Linked DNA regions of Homo sapiens: all the other regions are linked to region 3. The links come from fine-mapping of genetic effects on gene expression. A gene starts in region 3. Each other region holds a variant in brackets. All regions are shown on one strand. Distances are from middle to middle.

Region 1 (7,524 bases), 54 kb after region 3:
CTTCACATTCAGCAAACCTGGGCGGTCTGGGGAAGCACATATGGAAAACACAACAGGGGGTTCAGTCAAAAAATCCTCTGGGCCCCGCCTTGGAGGCCTAGGCAGCTCTACCAAGCAACTCATCTGTATTTTTGGTTTGTTTTGCTTTGTATCTTAAATAGGTGGGGAGGAAGGGTAAGCAGATAATGGGTAAGAACTAAGGATGGAATCAGAACCAAAATGATCAGAGCTCTTTGCAGGGCCTTTTTCTGGCCAGGATGTAATCTGTGTGGTCAGCTGAGGGAGCATGGCATCAAAACAATCCTGTTCCCCAAATGAAGTTTCCTCTGCTAACGTGTTTCTACTCAGAAATCTCCTTTTCTTTTCTTTTCTTTTTTTTTTTTTTTGAGATGGAGTCTTGCTCTGTCATCCAGGCTGGAGTGCAGTGGCATGACGTCGGCTCACTACAACCTATGCCTCCCGGGATCAAGCTATTCTCCTGCCTCAGCCTCCTGAGTAGCTGGGATGATAGGTGCTCACCACCACGCCTTTCTAATTTTTGTATTTTTAGTAGAGATAGGGTTTCACCATGTTGGCCAGGCTTGTCTCAAACTCCTGACCTCAAGTGATCCACCCGCCTTGGCCTCCCAAAGTGCTGGGATTACAGGCATGAGCCACTGTGCCCAGCCAGAAATCTCCTTTTCAACTTCTGCTCCTTCCTGATGAATCTACGTTTTATAGCTTCTACTCAGTTTCTTATCATAGCTTCAAATATGCTTTTTTCACAAATATGCTTTTAAAAAAAGGTTTGTCTTTTTGCTTAATTTGCTTATGCTATGTTTGCTTAATATGGCATATTTCCAAAGGACAAAACACAGTTTTAAAATACTGATACATTTTAACAGAGGTTTCTTTTCAGTGGTAAGATTGCAAGCAATTTTCACTAGTTCTTCTTTAGATTTTTCTTTAGTTCAATTTGCAAATGGTGAACTTAAATTACTTTTAAGCAGTTTACTTTTTTCTTTATGTAGATCTTGTTAGATTTATTCTCAAATACTTTATAGCTTCTATTGTGAATGGACCCTTCATTTTCATTACATCTAATATATCCCCACTGATGTGCAGAAAACTAATTGATTTTAGTATATTGAAACAATTCCAATTTTCTGAACTTTTATCAGTTCAAATAGCTTTTAATCATGGATTTCTACTTTTTTTGGATAGATAATTATATCAGCAATGGTAGCTTTATTTATTTCTTCTTTTGCAGCATTAACCTTTCTCATTTCCTCTTCTTGCCATAGTGTGTTGGCTAAAACCTCCAATATGGGATTAAATAATAGTAGCAATAGTAGCAATTCTTGTTTTATTCCTAACTTTGAAGGAAATGCTTCTAATGGTTTATCAGCAACTATGATGTTTGCTATAGATTATGGAGAACATGTTTTACTCCTGGCTTTCCAGGGGTTTTACAATTTTAATTTGTTTTAGTCAGGAATGTTGTTGAATTTTTATCAAATACTTTTACATTTTTCTATCTAAAGAGCTATGATATCTGAAGAGTTATGGTTTTATCTTAACCTAGCACAGTGAATTACATTAATAGAGTTCCTTATACTCTTGTACTCACTTGCTAATATTTTATATAGAGTTTTTGTATTTGTAGGTGATACTGGTTTAGAGTTATTTTGGGGGCCATTCTTTGCCTGTTTTAGTAACAATGTTAACTAGCCTTATACACCAAGTTGAGAGGTTTGCCTTCTGTGTCAACGCAGTAATGATCTGTTCCCTGACGGTTTCTTAGAATTTGTTTGCAGAACCATCTGAGCTTGGTGATAAATCTATCACTATCTTTAATTTTTCTTCCATAGCTTTTATCTATTCAGGCTTTCTACTACTTATATGGTAAAGTTTTAGTAATTTATATTGGAATAAAGTTGTAGATGATATTGTCTTAGAATATGAAATGTATTATTTTTATTCACGCTCCTTAACTTAACGCTTTTTTTTTTGTGACAGAGTCTTAATCTGTTGCCCAGTGCAGTGGCATGATCATGGCTCACTGCAGCCTCCAACTCCTGGGTTCAGGTGATCCTCCTGCTTTAGCCTCCCAAGTAGCTGGGACTATAGGCATGAGCCGCCACACCCAACTAATTTCGAAATTTTTTGTAGAGGTGGGGTCTTGCTACGTAGCCCAGGCTGGTCTTAAACTCCTGGCCTCAACCAATCCTCCTGCCTCAGCCTCCCAAAGTGCTGGGAATATAGGCATGAGTCACCATGCCCAGCTCTTAGAGCTCTTTATTTGTGCATTCTCTCATTAAAAAAATCTGATTTGTCAAAGGTTTATCTATTTTTTGCTTTTTTAAAAAAGACATAGCTTTTGGTTTTATTAATCAAGTCTGTTTTTAAAAATTGTGTGTTTTGTTTTTAATTTATTGAATTCCTTTTTAAAACTTTCTTTAGGTTTACTTTCTTCTCTTTTTCTAGTTTTCTTGAGTTGAATGCTTAATTCATTTGATTTGGTATTCTTTGTATTCTAATAAATGCATTGAAGCCTCCACATTTTCTTCTTAGTGCCACTTTGGTTTCATCCCATGGGCTTTGATAAACGGTACTCTCATAGTTCTTTTCTAAACAGCTTGTCTTACAATTTTGATTTCATTTTTAACCTAAGAGTTATATAGAAGCATGTTTTTAAATTTCCAAGTAAAAAGTTTGGGTTTCAGTTTTTGTTTTCTAATCTCTAAGTTTTATTTTCTAATTTCTCAGTTTGTTGCCTTGGGTTAGATTATAAGGTTTTCTCAGTCAGGCTCATCAAGAAGACAGAACATTCACTTGATCATCTATCTCGTATTGATTTCAAATTTGAGCTCCTGAAGGCTATTTATTTTCTTTTAAAAACTGTAACTCTTCTCTCCTTCATGGTATGAGTTTTACCCACCTTTAATGTCCTTCATGACCTGGTCCTGGTCATCCTCTAGTCTCAGTTCTGTTTCATTTTGCTCCATGTTAAGCCATATTAATCTATTTCCATACCAAGTTCCTCAAACACCCTATGTTCTGTCAGGACTCTGCACTTATTCAGATTTTATTCTTCCTGCCTGAAACATTCTCACCTTCCCTTCACTCTTCTTATTGACTTCAACCATTTCTTCAAAATACAGCCTGTGGTGGGATTCCATCCTGAAATCCTTCCTCAACAGTATCCCTTCCTCTCTCCTGTTCATCTCATCTCCTTTCTCTGGGCCCTCATAGCACCCTATAAACACCTCAATCGCTACTATACTAGTAGATTACATTCACTGAATGGTTATTATTTTCCAAAGATCGTGCCAAGGGCCTTATATACGATATGCCATTTAATCTTCACAATAACCCCATGAGGTCATACTTTACAGAGGGAGAAATTAAGACTTAGAGAAAAGAGTTGCATCTTACCAAGATAGACCACTTGCTAGTAAATGCAGAGCTGACATTTGGATCTAAGTCTGTCTGGTTCCAAAGGCTCTGCTCTTATTCCTTATTATCTTGTATTGTAAGTTCTGACTTTCTTGTTTCTCCCCCGTTAGACCGTGAGGTATCAGAGGGCAGAGACTACGTTCTGAACCACCAGTGGAAACACAGGAAGCATTTGGTTGACTGAGTTAATGAGCGAGAAGGCTGTTCTGGCCAAGAGCCCTGGATCAAAAAGCACAATTCTCCTGGCTGGTGAACAGGCCTGAAGGCAGAATCCCTACACAATGAAGAAGTCTGTAAACGATGTTTTCCTGTGTCTAATAAACTCTAGTGACCTTTATCCATTGAGATAAGGCTCAAGAGAACAATGTGAGATGGCAGAGTGGTCTCAGAGTGGGATTTTCAGAACTCTAAATATTCTTCTAAGTTAACTTTCTTACTTTTCTTCCATTAAAGAAGGAAACTGGTCTTCAGTTTGATTTTTTCACTCTCAGGTCTCCAACATATCCCATTGACCAGAGTAAGTATAATTTTCTTTTTAGATTTCAGCATTCAATTTTGGAACCATCAGCAAAAGATCTCAGATTCTGAGAAGGAACAAATGATCTGGTCCTGGCCTGGAGAATTGGGCCCCTGGGAGCATGGGGTCTTCCTCGCAGTTGCTCTATGGGAATGAAAAAGCCACTGATGCTTCATTGAAGGCTGGGCCCCAGACTGGCACCTTGGTTTAATGACTACAGATCCTCCTGCTTGATGAATGTGTGCATCTCAAAGGCCAGAGGCAGACGTGCATCTAAAGACAGGTGCCGAGAGAGGCCCTCCTGGGCTGGGACCACTCAGCCTGGGCTAGGCCTCTGCTTACTAGACACTGGCTCCCGGAGCCTTTCTGCAGCTCCTCCTTCCTCCACCTGCTTCTT[T/C]TTTTTTTTTTTTTTTTTTGGTAGAGACAGAATCTCTACATTTTCCAGGCTGCTCTTGAATGCTGGGCTCAAGAGATTTGCCCTCCTCAGCCCCTCAAAGTGCTGGGATGACAAGCGGGAGCCACCGCTCCCAGCCTCCTCCTTCCTCTTGAGCAGCACCACTGGGGTCAGCCCTTGGGCTGAGGAGATGATGTTAATCTACTAGGTCCCGTTTATCATACAAACAAGGACTAACATGCAACTGATCAGGGCTTGCTGGAAACACTTGGCTCCGGTGCAGTGTCATGGAACTGGCCTCTCTAGGAGTGGAGAGGGATCTGGTTTGGATTTTCAAACCCCTCTTTGGCAAGTTATTCTTTATGATGTGATGGATGAAGCTTGGCTGAAGGGCTGAAATTTTGTGGCCACGGAGTAAGTATATTTTCTGCAATGACAAGTTAGATCATTTACAGATCAGTCCCATTGTCCCCCTGACTGAGCCTCCGTTAAGGCAAGATGGTTTAGGGAAGGAGGGCAGCAGAGAAAAGTTGCATATTCTACATCTAAAGCTTTCACTCACCAGCTCTGTGACCTTGGGCAAACTGATTAAGATCAATGGGCTCAATTTTCTTGTCTAAACAAAACAGACCGGACTAAATAGATAATCTCAAAGATTCTAATTCAAAAATTGTAAGATGTATTCTCATTTGTAATTCCCTCTACATAATTCAACTGGGGAAATATACTCAAACATCTAATTGAAAAAGCATATTAACATTAAACTTAGAACACCTGACTTACTTAAAAACAAGAACGCTTCCTTTGGTCTTTAAGCTCTAGTCAAGGGCAAAATGGATCTGCCAGGGTTGTTCCCTACCCTCCACCCTCCAACTGGTCACCAGCTCCCCACTAGTCTCTTTCCCCTTTCTGCTCCACGCACACTCAGTCCTTTACTGAGCTAAGCCAGGTGCCACAGTTGTGCCACAGAAATCCATCCAAATACCCAGACAGTGCCAGGGCCTTTCTCTTCTCTCTCCATTCCCAACAGCCTAGTGCCTGAAAAGGCACTGTTGCCAGGAGGCCCACCTGAGATCCTCTCCCTGCACCTTGCTGAGGTTACAGTTGAGTCTGGAGTAGGGCCAGGGCCAAGGGTCCTCTCTGCTGGGGTAGGCTGCTTAGAAGGCCCTTTTGGGAAGTGTGTGTGACTCAGACTCCAGGACTTAGCACTCGAGGAGGCTGGAGTCAATTACTAGTTCCCTACTCCCCAGGCTGTGAAGAATTGGGAAAGAAACCTTTCCGGTCTCCATCCACACGGTCCTGGAATTGATTACAGAGCACTGTGGATTATGGGCAAATCTACAAAGCTTCCATCTCGTCCAGATCTGGTACTGTTAAGTGGAGGGTTTATCTGAAGCAGATTCAAACGTTCTGGTCCTCTTGAGATCTGCCCACCTGGGCTGGGTGTTTCCCTAGCACAGATTTTCTCAGGAGGTGTCTCAATTAGGGAACCAGATGACCACAGTGGAGTCTCCTGAAGAAGAGGCAGAAAAAATGCAGGTGGTTTTGTCTCTATTCTAGGAGCTGCTCTCCTGGCTTTCTGCATCTTTCCCTATTGGCTCTCTGATAGAGACTAATCTGAAACCGACTGTCCCTAGGGCGTTCAAAACCAAAACAAACAAACAAACAAAACAAATGTGATTGCAGGGCAGCTGTAAATTGATCCACAGACAATGAAAGACCTTAGTTCAGGTGTGGGCTGAAAACTGGAGGGGAGGCAGGGCTACTTAGGGAACCCAGTACTTTGCAATTTAAGTTCCTTTTGCGCTTCCTCTCAAGTTTCCTTTATTGCACTGCTCCCTCAGTTCACAGGCATGTTCTAGGAGGCAGTGGATTGGGAAACTGAAGACTTGAGTCCTGTTTCTCTTCCACTTAGTTTCTGTGTGCCTGTGGACAAATCATCTAATCTTTCTGGGTTTAGGCTTAGTTTTCAAGACAATGACATTTCTTTCATAAGCGTATGGTGAGAATGAAATAGGTAGAGGAACTTTAGAACATATTATAATTCTTGTGTTTGTTCGAATAAAGGCAGTTTCCATGGGGTTGGGGTCAGGAGTGTAAGTAGGAGTGGGTGGCATATCAACAGTTATGAAATTGAAGGTTTTTGAGTTGTTCTTGGTTAGAGCAGAAATTCAGGAGCTCAAGAAAAATAATGCCTGATGCAGACACGTTTGGGGTTTCAGGCAAGTTCTCGTTCCTGTAGTTGAGTGCACATAGGCAAGGTGGTTTAAGAACAATAACAAAACAAAAAACCCACGGTGCCCCAATTCACTACTTCCTTGAAGAAATGATGCTGGGAATTTGAGGGTACTTTTCTGATCCAATTCAGCAAAGTATCATGGTGTGGCCTATAGCAATTCCTTCCCACCATCCTACCGATAGGAAAAAATTATTCAGCAAAGTTATACATGTGTCCTCTTAATATTTAAATTTGAATCGGAGCTTGGTCTAGTGCAGGGATTATCAATTTTGGCTACATATTAAAATTATCTGGGGAGACTAAAAAAGCAAACGAATGCCTGGGACCCATCCCTAGAGATTCTGATTCACTTGCCTGGGGTATGACCTTCAGGATTTTTAATAGCTCTTGGGTGATTCTAATGTGTGGCCAAGGGTGCACACTGCCAGCTGAGTGAGACGCAGTTGGAATTACAACTTTGCAAGCTAGGTAACCTTGGGCAAGTTCCTTAACCTTTCTATACTTCAGTTTCCTCACTTTAACAATTGGAGCTGTAGCGGTAATTTAACTCATAGTGTTGGTCAGAGGACTGAGGGACATACGGAAAGTGCTTAGCACAGTGTCTGTTGTACAGTAAATTAGCTATTACTATTTTCATTACTGCTCTGTAAACTTGCCTCATTTTCTTCTTACCTTTCTTTTCCTCTCATTTCTCTGATTTTCTTGGGTCCTTTCTACATTTTTCCTATTCTTTCTTCCTCAATTATTGCTCCCTTCAGCCTTTTTCTTTTCCCTTCAGCCTTCCCCCTCCCTGCCCCCCGCTGCTTTCCGGATGTTTTCCCCTTTCCACTCCTGGGCCTGCATCTTGCTGGGGATTTATAAGAACGCTAGCAGGGCCAGCTTAAATTAATCAGAGGTCTGAGCCATGGATGATTTGAGGAGCAATGTCGTTTACTG
Region 2 (7,074 bases), 52 kb before region 3:
AGCAACTGGACAAGGGTGAATTTACGGAGAAGTACGTGGTCCCGCGGACAAGGCTGGCATCCAAGTTCATCACACTCTACCGGGCGATACGGGAGCATGGCTTCTACGTCACTGACTGTCCCCAGCAGCAGGCACAACCCCCTGAGGGCGGCGGTTTGTGCTGAGAGCTATGTAAGCGCAGCCTGGACGCTGGAGGGTAGGGTGGTTGCTACCTTTAATCAGTACTATGGATTTCTAAATGCATTTAACTGTGGTTAATAAAAGCGTGTATGGGCCGGGCATGGTGGCTCACACCTGTAATCCCAGCACTTTGGGAAGCTAAGACAGGTAGGTCACCTGAGGTTGGGAGTTTGAGACCAGCCTGACCAACATGGAGAAACCCCGTCCTTACTAAAAATATAAAATTAGCTGGGCATGGTGGCGCATGCCTGTAATCCCAACTACTAGGGAGGCTGAAGCAGGAGAATCGCTTGAACCCGGGAGGCGGAGGTTGGGATGAGTTGAGATCGTGCCATTGCACTCCAGCCTGGGCAACAAGAGTGAAACTCCATCTCAAAAAAATAAAAAATAAAAAATAAAAACGTGTATGGCTTTCCTTCAAGCATATGTCAGCTTACTACATCATAAGACTTCATAAAATAAAAATTGCCCTAGGTTTTAAAAATTATATGCATTCCAACAAAATTATTTTCATATCAATGAGGTTTTTAAACTAAGAATCCATTTACAGCATAAAGTGGTAGCACATTTTATTCACAGAGCAATGAAAATTATTCCTATAAATTAATGTGAGCTGAACAAATTCACCTTCCAATGTGCATACAGAAAGTGGGGATGTGAAGACAGCAAGGTGGGTGAGACACAAGTTATGAAGTAATGAGTACCTTCTCCTCGTGGTTTTTACTTTAAAAGCACATGCTAAGAGCTGGATGCAGTGGCTCACGCCTGTACTCTCAGCACTTTGGGAGGCCAAGGCGGGCAGATCACTTGAGGTCAGGAGTTCCAGACCAGCCTGGCCAACATAGTGAAACCCCGTCTCTACTAAAAATACAAAAATTAGCCGTGTGTGGTGGTGCGTGCCTGTAATCCCAGCTACTCAGGAGGCTGAGGCATGAGAATCGCTTAAACCCAGCAGGCAGAGGTTGCAGTGATCCAAGATCGCAGCATTGGACTCCAGCCTGGACGACAGAGCGAGACTACATCACAAGAAAAAAAAAAAGAAAAAAGCACATGGTAAGCTCATGATAGTGAACAACAGTAAAAAAAACCAAAAACCCCCTCAGAATCTAAATCAGGAAATGGTCACTCCTTTTAAAGGAGCTCTTCTGAGTCTATTTGCACAAACGAGCCCAGCAATGACTGAAATCAGTAAAATTCCAGCCTGTGTCAATTTCATTTTGCCTGACCCGACACATGGAGGCTCAGGGGTTGGGTTTGCTGCTACAAAGCACTTCCTCTGCCCACTGAAAAGGCAGAGTTCAGAAAGCACATGAAGAGAGGGCTATCTTCTTTCTCTGACACCTTCACAGGAGGCTGGGGAAACTGGGATGAGAAACTGTAAAGAAATGAGGTAATTTTTAACAAGTATGTTGGAGTTTGTGCACTGAAACAATCATCGAACTTCAAAAGGCCAACATGCAAAACATTCCCAAATTCCTCTTTGGAAACTTCTTCCAGAACTTGGTTGTTTTTGACCAAATGTGATGTACTACTTCACTTAATCTTATTCCCCAGCCTTGGTACTAACTGATGTCTAATTTCCAAAAATGAAACCCATCTTAAAGGTACCAATAACCGCCTCGTGTTAAAATAACTTAGGGGGAAGCCATTACACCGAGATGGATCCAACACCCAGTTCCAAATTAAACTAAATGAAACTTCAGATCAGCCAATCCTAAATGGCCAACTGAG[C/A]GTTAGTTACACAATCAGATACTTGCCACTGGGATAACCTAAATAAGACAACTGCTCAAACTTTAACCAACCAACTTCTCTCCTGTGCCTCCTCACACACCCTCTAAAAGCCTCCCTTCACACCCTCTTTCGGGAGCCCGAACCACTTCAGTTTTGGTGCGGCTTGATTCACGAATGGCTGTTTGCTCAAATAAACTTTAATGTGTTTTATCCTTTAACATTAGTAATAAAGATATTCAGAAAACTTGCTACAGATCCTTAAAGCTTGTTTCCAAATAGGCATTTAGTCCATGTTTCAGCACAGTTAACGTCAATGGGAAAGAATGCATGGCATAGCGACATTTGCATTTACAAGCTCAGGTACTTTCCTTCAAACACAAAACTGCCCACCCAGAATTTGATACCATTTTAAGCAGAACTATGACTAGTATTCCATGGTGTTCAAGAAATCAACAAAACCCCAGAGGGTAAAGATGAAAGAATTCCAATTTGCCCCCATTTCTTCACATTTTATACTAGGATTCAGCTTCTCTAGTCTAATTCTTTACTCATTATTAGTAGTAACGGCAGCTGCATTTAATGAGTATTCATAAAGGACTCCCCACCAGAAGAAACACTTATTCTTCCTTGTCAATCCTCAAGACCATCCTCTGAGGTGGGTCTTAACATTATGCTTCTTTTATAGATGAAAAGGGAAATTGAGGAAATGTCCAAAGTCATACAGTGGCAAAACTGGGGTTCAAACCAGGGTTTGACCATGAAAGCTGTGCCCTTAACCCCTGGGCCACACTGCAGTGGTCAAGAGGACAACCCCAGCAAATCGAAAGGGACCAACTGTACCTAGTATGTGCAGAAACTGGGTCAATACTTTGCCATCATTAGAGAAGAAAAAGGAGAAAATGAGGATTTGCTTTTATCAACATTCAAACATGGAAAGGAGGTAAACAATAAAAGTCAGCTAAAATAAATAATATAAGAAATGCCTATTTCATGCTAATTTCCCTTAGGGGCTGCAGCTCTTTTCTTTTTCATTTATTTATTTTCTTGGAGACAGGGTCTTCCTCTGTTGCCCAGGCTGGATTCCGGAGGCACAATCACGGCTCACTGCAGCCTCAACCTCCTGGGCTCAGGCAATTCTCCCACCTCAGCCTTCCCAGTGGCTGGGACTACAGATGCATGCTACCACACCCAGCTAATTTTTTAAAATTATTTGTAAAGACGGGGTCTCACTATGTTGCCCAGGCTGGTCTCAAGTGATCCTCCCACTTAAGCCTCCCAAAGTGCTGGGATTCTCACCCCTTAATTTTCAAGGAAAGCTTTAGATGGTCCCCATTTCTTATTTTAGGGGGTGCTCTCCAACCTGGAGGTGACATTGGCAAGAGCTGGCCTCATATTTCTTCTCTCTCACTTCAGCAGGCTACGAATTCCTTTTTTTTTTTTTGAGACGGAGTTTTGCTCTTGTTGCCCAGGCTGGAGTGCAGTGACGTGCTCTCAGCTCACTGCAACCTCCCACCTCCCGGGTTCAAGTGATTCTCCTGCTTCAGCTTCCTGAGTAGCTGGGATTACAGGTGCCTGCCACCACGTCCGGCTAATTTTTTGTATTTTTAGTAGAGACGGGGTTTCACCATGTTGGCCACTCTAGTTTTTGAACTCCTGGCCTCAAGCAATCCACCCGTCTCGGCCTCCCAAAGTGCTAGGATTATAGGCATGAGCCACCGCGCCTGGCCCCCTCCTCTTATAAATAAGACCACATACCAATCTATAGGTTTTGCCCCTAATAAAGGAAATCAGCCATTGATTTACACCAACAGATGGCAATGTTGCTCAGTCTGTAGAATTATGAACTGAGACTCCTTAGATTAAGTTTCCTTTATCGTACCAGCTAAATGCTAACTGAAGCACTGGCAGCAACTCTGTTCCCCAGATGAAATCCCAAGTTTCTTCCCAGCACCTCCTGAGATGTGCTTCTTTATTCCATTGTTCAGCACTCCCCGGAGCACACATCTGGGACTCAATCAATGTTCATGGGATGACCACCAGGATCCTTTTCACAGCAAGTGCCACAGTGTTTCCTATCTGAAACACTAAAATGATCTATACAAAGGTAATCTTCCAAAGCCTCTACAGCATGCATGAATTACTCCTAGAACCAGGAAAACCTACCATTACTAAAAAACAAAACAAAACAAAACCCCACAATGGCTGCATCTAGCTCCCTGTGTATAGCAGGTGCTTACTACAGTATTGCCTCTCCTCCCAATCTCCTCTGCTGTCTTCACTACTTTACCTCCAGCTATTTTTCTACCACCTTCTTCTCCTCCACTGACTCACCTACCAGGGCATAAAATAGGCTTTGCACTTCCTAGAGAAAATAAGGATGGCAATGCTTACACTTTGTCTGAAAGGGGAAAAGTACACCTACTGTGTGCCAGACGCTTTTGTATGTCATCTCATTTCATTCAGTCTGCAAAGCAACTGAGGAGGTGGTAATTATTCTTATTTTACTGTTGAGGAAACCAAGGCTCGGAGTGATCAAGCAACGTTTCCAACGTCGCCCCTGTTTTCCCAGTGGTGATTTGAAATGTGGACCCGAGTTTTCTGATTCTACTTTACCAGAATGTGCCATTTAAAAGTTAGGAAAATCCCAGCACTTTGGGAGGCCGAGGCAGGCAGATTATCTAAGGTCAGGAGTTCGAGACCAGTCTGGCCAACATGGTGAAACCCTGTCTCTACTAAAAATACAAAAATTAGCCAGGCATGGTGGCGGGCACTTGTAATCCCAGCTACTTGGGAGGCTGAGACAGGAGAATCGCTTGAACTCAGGAAGTGGAGGTTGCAGTGAGCCAAGATCTCACCACTGCACTCCAGCCTGGGCAACAAGAGCAAAACTCCATCTCACACACACACAACGTTAGAAAGAACATTTGCCTTTGAAATACTGTTTATGAAAATATAAAGACTCTAAAAATTTTAAATGACAGAAACCTTTCACTTAAGAGATCATACTTGCAATAAAAATATTGCCTCCTAGTTTAACCATTTTACAAATATGACTTTTACATCATGTAAAAGGCATCCCTATATTTCACAAAATTAGATAGACTCAAATTTTCCAGTTTTAAGATCAACTTTAGAAATGGGCCTCGGTTATAGTGTTAGGGGAGTTAACATTCATGGGATGATTATTCAAGTCTGTAATGAGATTTTAAAAATTCAATTCAGTTAGTAAAATCATACATGGGAGGTGGGTGGTGGGGAGGAGAGAAAATTTGTTTCTTTTTAATCCAAGTAATTCTCCACAAGGGTGAAAATAAGAACCACATTCAAGTAAATAGAATTTTTTTTTCTTAAAAAAAGAGAAAGCAAATACGTTGTAACAATAAAGGTAAAATGATTAAGACAAATTTTTTTAAATTATCAATTTAAAGTTGTCAATAAGTAACAATGAAACTTCAGGTTTTTTTTGTTTTTGTTTTTTAATGGAGTCTCACTCTGCCCCCAGGCTGGAGTGCAGTGGCTTGATCTCGGCTCTCTGCAACCTCCACCTCCCAGGTTCAAGTGATTCTCCTGCCTCAGCCTAAGAAGCTGGGATTACAGGTGCCACCACCACACCCAGCTAATCTTTTTTTTTTTTTTTTTTTTGAGACAGAGTCTCGCTCTGTCGCCCTGGCTGGAGTGCAGTGGCGCGATCTCGGCTCACTGCAAACTCCACCTCCTGGGTTCATGCCATTCTCCTGCGTCAGCCTCCTGAGTAGCTGGGACTACAGGCCCTGCCACCACGCCTGAGCTAGTTTTTTTGTATTTTTTAGTAGAGACGGGGTTTCACCGTGTTAGCCAGGATGGTCTTGATCTCCTGACCTCGTGATCCACCCACCTCGGCCTCCCAAAGTGCTGGGATTACAGTGTTTTTTGGGCTCTCCTTTACCCACACAACCACACGATTAGGTAAACATCATTAGCCACATGCTAGAAATAAGAAAATTGAGGTTATCAAGGGCAAGTAAACTGCCCAAGGCACACCACCACAGGGAAGCAGAGCTGAGATTTGAAGCATTCCTTTCTAGAAGGTTCATTTCACTACTCAGTTTTCAGAATTCTCTCTGGGGAATTAAAAGCCAAGTACCACACACTGCACCAAGGTTCTTACCCTTGGATCCATAGGTGGTCGTCATGGAATCTTTCTGACACTGTTTGCAAAATCACAGGCATAACCAGTAAGTAAGGGGGCTTCAGGCTGCACCCCACCCGAGGTAGAGGACTGTGTGGGAGCACAAAGCTGGCCCTGCCCGATGTGGTGGGTGGCCTTCCTTGTTAACCACCACCACCACCAAACAGGGCTCTATTTCTGACTGCATGCAATTTTTAGGATAGCGCCATTTCAGCTGAGATAGTGATCTCAGGTCCAGTCCTCCACGTGCATGACTGGTAGTGATGCACACCCGCCAACATCTCTGAGCTTCAAACACCCCTCTGTGGGTCCCTCCTCCTGAATTCACAAGGCTGCTGCAGGGATAAATACACAGGCATCTGCCGCATCTCAACTCCCACTCTCCAAATGTTTGCTATCACGGTTTGCAAAATATTTTACCCCATATTGGCTATCCAAATTAAATATAACAAACATGTAAGGGTTTGCAGCAATATCATTCAAGTAGTGTCTGGACCCATTAAGAGGATACAGCTCAGGCTACCACCTTAGCCTAAGTATTCTACCACCGAAGAGCAAGTATTCCCCCTTCCCATTTCCCCACCACCCACATTTTTTTTTTTTTTTTTTTTTTTTTTTGAGACAGGACCTTGCTCTATTGCTCAGGCTGGATTGCAGTGGCACAATCTCCGCTCACTGCAACCTCTTCCTCCTGGGCTCAAGCGATCCTCCTACCTTAGTCTCCTGAGCAGCTGGAATTACAGGCATGTGCTACAATGCTTGGATAATTTTTGTTAGTAGAGAGGAGGTTTCACCATGTTGCCCAAGCTGGTCTCCAACTCCTGGGCTCAAGCGATCCATGCGCCTTGGCCTCCCAAGGCCTCCCAAGTGCTGGGATTATAGGTATGGGCCACCATGCCCAGCCACCCATCTCCCTCCTCTTGCCACCAGATGCCCTGAGGCAACTTAAGTCTTCATGACTTTCTCACCAATTACAAAAAGGCTTTATTATATTT
Region 3 (7,524 bases):
AGAAAAGGCTTATCCAACGTGTGATGATATCAGTATCCAACTTCTCAAGGAAGAAGCTGAGGAATTATATGAGGACACAGAAAAACACAGACTAAAGAGGAGTTAGAGGAAATGATACATCAATTACAAAGATAACCATGAAAAAGAAGAATCGGGAAGTTGGAACCTTCCTAGAATTGCCATTGTTCTAAGCAGCAACATGCTAGATTAATTTCTAAATAAGGTTCCTTGAAGGAATTACATACTGAGCATTACTTTGTACATTTTATATTTATGCATGCATCTTGCTGTATAGTGTTTATAACAAAACCACGTCTACTGCATGCTCACAGGAAACCTAAGAGATTTTCTTAAGAGCATATTTAGACTAGGCTTTACCTTGCTTGCTGACTTATCCCTCAGCCCAAGTACTAAATTATCACATTTAGTACTCAATTGGAGAGACAATAATTTATTCTAAAACTGAAAATAAACACTGCTTTTTGGGGGCAGGATGTTGGTCTCTAGTAAGGCACTTTTTGAAAGACTTCCAGGAATGGTTTGGACTTTTATGGGATTTTTCACTTTTATAACCTCTGCTCAGCAGCTGACTTATATACATTACATTCGGAATTTTAAAAAAATGAAAAAAGATTTAATGGCCACCTTCAAGAAGTTCTAATAAATTCTCTCAACAAATAAGAGTTGTATTTTAGTCTGCCTCATTTGTTCAGCGTTTTTCCCTCTCAGACTGCTGTCACATCTAAAAAAGGCAAGATTTAGCTGTGACACTTGATCGAAAGAACTCTGTACTCCAACCCAGGTGTGTGGGATGGAAGGGTCCCTGCGACAAAACACCCCTCATAATCCAAGTTCTTGTGTTACTCTTGCTCATGTGGCTGCACACCCCTCAGGAATTTGGCTCGCAGTAGGCCTTCCAGACATGCAAAGCCGCCATTATTATTGTGTGACCTTGCACAACCCACTTTCTCTAAGCCCAGTTTCATCTTCAAATCGAACAGGACTGGAGGAGTCTGGCAGTTCCTCAAAATGTCAAACACATAGTTACGACATGATCCAGCAACTCCACCCCTAGGTATAGACCTAAGAGAAATGAAAACATATGTTCATGGAAAAATTTGTATGTGAATGTTCACAACAGTATTATTCATAATAGCATCAAAGTGGAAGCCATCCAAATGTCCATCAATAGTTGACCAGATCAACAAAATGTGGTCTATCCATATAATCAAATACTTAGCCATAGAAAAGGAATGAAGTTCGGATACATTCTTCAACACCTGAAAGCATTATGCTAAAAGAAGTCAGACACAAAAGACCACGAGACAATTAAGATAAAGTTTCCGGAATAGACAAATCCATAGAGACAGATTACCAGTTGCCAGAGACAGGGAAAAGTGGGAAATGGGGGGGCGACTGCTAATAAGACAGGAGGTTTATTTTGGAGGGTGACGAAAATGTTTTAAAATTAGATTGTAGTGATGGTAATGGTTACATAACTCCGCGAATACGAAGACCACTGACTCGTACATTTCAGAAGGGTGACTTTTACAGAATTATATGGTATCTCAATAAAGCTATTTTAAAAAATTCAGAAGTAAAGACATTCCCCAGGCCATGTCCTGCAAGAATGACTTCACAGATACCAGCGTGAAGCTTCTAGAAAAGATAGAAAGAAACCCTCAGGGAAGGTAGAGCTCACTTCCCCAGGGGGAAAAATTCAAGAGGACAAATCAGATGATCTCTAGTTTCATGGAAGAGTCCTCCTGTGCTGAACTCGAAAGGCAAAGCAGAGGAGAAAAGACTGCATTTACCATTCCCCATATCTGCAATGGATATTCAAGAAGGTTCTTTAGTGTCGCGGCAGAACAGCATGCTGTAAGAGGTGGGATGTGAGTAAAATAAGAAGAGGAAACTGTCATAGGTAGGTACCAGATGCCAGAGGCACTCACTGCATGTGCTGCACATGTGGGTACTATAGTCATCCCTTGGTATCCACAGAAGGACTGGTTCCAGGACTCACCCCCTACCAAAATCCGCAGCTCAAGTCCCTTAAATAAAATGTAGTATTTGCATGTAACTTATGCCCATCCTCCCATCTACTTTAAGTCTTCTCTAGATTACTTAGAATACCTAATACAATGTAAATACTAAATAATTGTTATATATATATATTTTTAAATTTCTTTTTCCAAATATTTTTGATGCAACATTGGTTGAATCCACAGATTCGGAACCTGATAGCGAGAGCTGACTGTACTATCCTCATTCCACAGATATGAAAGAAGAGCGGTGCCTGAGGTGCACAAAAACATATAGGAAAGACTGGGTCAGTTGTCAAGAGGTTTGGGATGCAAAGGTTGGTTTGGAATTGGAGTCACTGCAGGTTATTTAGAATGATGATTGAAAAATGCAGATTAAGAAAATTAAACCTGGGAGTGGTACATCACACAGTGGCCCTCAAGCTTACCTACCCTTAACTCCTCATGCCCAGGCCTCACCTGCAATCAATTACATCAGAATTTCCTGGGTGGACCCAGCTGATTTTAACATATAGCTAACCACTGGTAACAGCAAGGTCTATTCAAATTCACTTAATCCCAGTAGCCCCCGGAGGTAAAGACTATTTTTATTTCCATTGTACAGATGTGGAAAGTGACTCGGAGGGGCCGGGCGCACCCCTGAGAAATCTTTACTTCTTATTTCCCCAACCTGCGCAACCTGACTCCAGAGCTGCATATTCTTACTTTCTATTAAAAGCAGAGTCTGTTTCTTATTCTTCCCTCGAGCACACAGGCTAACACCTCTTAGGTGATGGTAAATGTCTATTAGAAAAACAAAAAAGGGAGAGGTGGCTCCATTTAATTTTCCAACCTTCCTGGACTAGGTGCCAAACAAACCTGGTTAAAAAACCTCCTACCCAGCAAATCTCACCTTCTCCCAACCAAAACACGCTTCAAGCTCCATCTGCGCACCTCCTGGGCTTAGGGAGGCAAGGATGAAAGGCACAAGGTAAACAATCCTGCCTCTGGGGAGCTTTCAAGTTAGAACCTGAGAATAAGCCATATAAACAGATGACCAGCCTTTGAAAGTTGTTGTCAGGATTAAATGCATAATTTTGCAGAAGGCGTTTCGTTCGGGGCCTACCACGTGGAAAGCGCTCACCAGACGACAGCTGCAAATAAAATAAACTGCGCACCCCAACAGCGTTAGGGGCCCCGCCAATTCCTAACTCCCTGTCTTACCCCTTTGCTTCTTTCCTTGACTACCCCCACACCCGACCGAACTCCACCAGAGGCTGCGGCTCCTCTCGGGCATTGTCAGCTGCACCTTGCGCCCCAGCCCCACCAGCCCTGAACAAGGCGCCGGCGTTTCCAAGAACCAAGGGCTGCAGGCGCACGAGGAAAGCGCGGAGGAGTCAGTGACCGGGCGCACTCGGAAGCCTGGCTCCCCGTCCCGGCACTGTCTCGGCCGGCTGTGCGACCCCAGCACAGTACCTAGGCCCTTTCCTCTCTCGCCCTGGAGGACTTTCGGAAGAGCGAGATTTCCTTTCGCTGCAAAACACCAAACTCGGAAAGGGCCGCGCTTTCCTCGCCCAGGGCCCTTACCTTTCTTGGCCCCACGCGCTCGCCGTTACCCCGGCAACGCCGGCCGTGGGGCGGACACCGCTGCCGTCAAGCAGTGCGGCCGCAAAGCCAGCCGAGTGCGCAGCCGCAGAGCTCCCGTCGGGACTTGGCGGAGTGCGCCTGCGCACGGCCGGCTGGCGGGTGTTCTGTGCGCCAGCTCTGCCACTGCGGAGTATGAGGCGGAGGCTGCGTGCGCGCTTTGCTGCTCTCTGCAGGATTGTACGGAAGCCAGAACGATCCTGCAAGACGCATTTTACAGATGAGATGCAGTTACCCGTCAAATGTCACATAGTCACGTGGGAGGTGGGAGAGACCTAGAATCTTCGGCCCTCGGTGGATGGGATGTTTGAGGCGACCGACAGGACTTTATTAAATGGCCCTGAGGAAACTGATCTCATCTTTCTCAATGTAGAAAGAGGATCACAGCAGCGCACCTGTGTACGCTGCAGCATGCGGGGAACTTGCAAGGACGTTTTCTCTGGCAGACACCTGGCCAGAAGCCTCTGTGTGCCCAGACTGCCTGTGCAGTTAAGGGACAATAGGCGGCAGGTCCACCTGCTCTGCATCCCCATTTTCCCCCCTCACTGGCTGCGTGAGCTTGAATGACTGACAACCTTTCTGAGCTTGAGTTTACTGAAAAATGGGCCATCAGAATTACGGGAGATGAGCAAAACTGGAGTGCAATAGGAAGTGTAAGTTTCTCCTGACCTGGTTATTTTAAAGGAGCCCTGTGGGGAGTCCAATATATACTTTCCCAAATATGAATCACAGGAGTTCCACCACACAGACTAAGCAGGAGGCAAAGGAGGATGGCAAGGAAGTGTGGCAAATACTGCTGGAGAGATTCATGGTGCTAGATGTGATGATGGATGTTGAATTTTGGACTTCTGCCAATGTTCTTGCCTCCATTCCTTCACGCATGCTGTTGCCTCTATGTTCCCTCCCCTCTGTTAGCTGCAGTAATTCCTGGTCAGCCTTTAGGTCTCAGCTCAAATATCACCTCTTCCAGGAGACTTCTTGCCTTCCCAGACCTGCTTGGGTGACTTGCCTCTGTGCTCTGCAGTAGTCTGGCATGGCATGTGTTGTCCCTGTTTTTCTGGCCCTTTTTATTTTTTGAGACGGAGCCTGGCTCTGTCGCCCAGGCTGGAATGCAGTGGCACCATCTCAGCTCACTTACCTCACTGCAATCTCTGCCTCCCAGGTTCAGGTGATTCTCCTGCCTCAGCCTCCCGAGTAGCTCGGATTACAGGCGCCTGCCACCACGCCCGGCTGATTGTTATATTTTTAGTAGAAACGGGGTTTCACCACGTTGGCCAGGCTGGTCTCAAACTCCTGACCTCAAGCGATCCTCCCGCCTCGGCCTCCCAAAGTGCTGGGATTACAGGCTTGAGCCACTGCATCCTGCCTGGCCCTTTTTGAACTGCACTGTGGGCTTGCTCTTGGTAGAGTGAGATCATGTCGCAGCATTCAGTGGGTCCTCTGCTGCAAGGACCTTCACTGCTAGGCTAGGGAGTTCAGGTTTTAGATAAACCAAAATCAAAGAGCTTTGTGGTAAGAATGTTGCAAAAGAAAGGGAGAAAATTGGCAAGAGTCACAGGATATGGTAACAGGATGGATTGGGCAGGGGAGAGACAGCTGAAGAGAGGCTGTAATATCCGACCAGAACATGCCAATTTAAGAAATACTGGTTTTAGAATTAGAGGGCTTTAACAATGAAAGGGATTCAGAGGTTGTCCAGTTAAACTTCCTTATTTAACTGATAAGAAAACAGTTCCAGTGGCACTGTGAGTTGTCAGAGATAACCGAGCAGGTCTGAGGTGGGGCTGAGACTAGAGCCAGGTCTCTTAAATCCCATCCCAGCTCGTGGAAGGATTTGGGGTTTGCTGATAATGGGATCTCAAATTCCCCTCCCAAAAACATAAAAAAAGAAATTAAAAAAAGAAAAAAAATCTGTAAATTTTAAAAAAGAAAGAAATTTTCCCCAAGACTTTCTCAAGTGCATTTTAAACCCTTTGATATGGTTATTTTCAAACATACAACACAAAAGTAGAGAAAACAGTCCAATAAATCATCACTTCTGGCCGGGCACGGTGGCTCATGCCTGTAATCCCAGCACTTTGGGAGGCTGAGGCGGGTGGATCACCTGAGGTTGGGAGTTCGAGACCAGCCTGACCAACATGGAGAAACCCCATCTCTACTAAAAATACAAAATTAGCTGGACATGGTGGTGCATGCCTATAATCCCAGCTACCCTGGAGGCTGAGGCAAGAGAATTGCTTGAACCGGGGAGGTGGAGGTTGTGGTGAGTCGGGATTGCACCATTGCCCTCCAGCCTAGGCAACAAGAGTAAAAACTCTGTCTCAAAAATAAAAAATCGCTTCTACAACCTTCAACCTTTGGTATCTCATTTCTTTTGCATTCTCGATATACACACTTTTATCTCCTTGCTGGAGTATTTTAAAACAATCCCAGACATGATATAACTTCATCCATGATATTTCAGTAGGTATCTCTAATAGATAAGGACTTAATTTTATTACAATACATCTGCATCTACATATATATATATATATATACGCAGACACACACACACACACACACATATATCAACTGTGTAGTTCATTCTCATTATTTGAGGTAATTCTGTTCTATAAAGTTGCCACAAACACTGAATTAGTAAATACTGAACCATGTTTCCAGGAGAAATACAAGATACAAGGTTAGGTGTCTGTGAGTCTCTGGTCACAGCATTTTCATCAACTGGTCAATATATAACCTCACTTCATGTGTTTCTGTTTAAAGACACCTTACATATGTTGATTCATCAACACTGAACTCGCAGCCAACAGCACTATAACTCCTGCCTAAAGGAGGCTTATCTAACACACCTATTCTCTCCAATAAGGCACATTTCTTGGGTGGGGAACACCAGACAGCACTTCAGCACTCCACTTGGGGCCATTTTAAACAGTTAAATCACCAACAAAAAGCACAAAAATGTGAAAAACATGGCACAAACTAGAGCTCAAAAAAGCATACTTATTTATGGTATGAGAGCTGAAACAAGAAGGCAGAGTCTCCTTGTTCACCTGCAGCTGGGAATGTGCACACTGTGTGACTCAAATTTTTTGGTATTCTGTGCATGCACACATCTGCAGATGACTGTGACAGTGAAGTATTGATTGTGATGTTACCAATAAGTTTTAGCAACTAGGTGAGTTTGTAAATACAGAATCCAAGAGTAGGGAGGATGGACTATATCAACATATCCCCAGTATCACTAGCACATCTAACACAATGAACAGTTATCGGTGAAATGTGCCCAGAACCTCCAAGTAATATTTGGGATATACTTAAGAAAAAAGTTTATCTGAAATTCAAGTTAATCTGGGTGCCTCACATTTTATCTGGCCACCCTAGTGACAATTTATTGGGCACTTACTATGTGCCAGCCACTTTTGCATCCATGATCTTATTTAATTCTCATAACAGGGCTGTGAGATTGGTGTTCTTACCTCTCTTCTGCAGCCAAGGTTACCGCACATGCCCATGGTGTCATTGCTAGGAAGTAGTGAAGGCCAGATGAGGATACGGATCTACGGGGCTTATGCTCTTTTAATCTGTCATGCTGGATACAGGAGGGCAATGCATTAACAAAACATGACAGGCCGGGCGCGGTGACTTATGCCTGTAATCCCAGAACTCTGGGAGGCCGAGGTGGGTTGATCACCTGAGGGTGGGAGTTCAAGACCAGCCTGGCCAACATGGCAAAACCCCGTCTCTACTAAAAAAAATATATAAAAATTAGCTGGGCATGGTGATGCGCCTGTAATCCCAGCTATTCGGGAAGCTGAGACAGGAGAATCACTCGAACCCAGGAGGCAGAGGTTACAGTGAG

Alleles and levels. Positions count from the first base shown, and alleles are read on the strand shown. Sizes are in standard deviations (SD) of each study's normalised expression. Not every link is listed here.
With allele C in place of T in region 1, the expression in subcutaneous fat of the gene that starts at base 3,646 in region 3 is higher (moderate effect, 0.53 SD a copy in FUSION).

The links. PIP is the estimated chance that this variant, and not a neighbour inherited with it, causes the effect. A credible set is the group of variants that fine-mapping cannot tell apart.
Region 1: its variant is the best candidate, but not a certain one, in a credible set for the expression of TSEN2 in subcutaneous fat (FUSION, PIP 0.75).
Region 2: its variant is the best candidate, but not a certain one, in a credible set for the expression of TSEN2 in sun-exposed skin (GTEx, PIP 0.64).

The regions. Positions count from the first base shown.
Region 1 is chr3:12,426,400-12,433,923 of GRCh38, reverse strand. PPARG (peroxisome proliferator activated receptor gamma) reads right to left here. Exons shown (of 8, transcript NM_138711.6): 8 at 1-26. Among named protein-coding and RNA genes, the nearest start is that of TSEN2, 54 kb to the left of the region's middle. The variant T/C (reference allele first, on the strand shown) is at 4,353.
Region 2 is chr3:12,533,283-12,540,356 of GRCh38, reverse strand. MKRN2OS (MKRN2 opposite strand) reads left to right here. Exons shown (of 4, transcript NM_001195279.2): 4 at 1-581. The coding sequence ends at 164. TSEN2 (tRNA splicing endonuclease subunit 2) reads right to left here. Exons shown (of 12, transcript NM_025265.4): 12 at 6,699-7,074. Among named protein-coding and RNA genes, the nearest start is that of MKRN2OS, 8.7 kb to the left of the region's middle. The variant C/A (reference allele first, on the strand shown) is at 1,912.
Region 3 is chr3:12,480,602-12,488,125 of GRCh38, reverse strand. It overlaps TSEN2 (tRNA splicing endonuclease subunit 2), which reads right to left and starts at 3,646. Exons shown (of 12, transcript NM_025265.4): 1 at 3,246-3,646. RefSeq lists an enhancer at 3,303-3,722.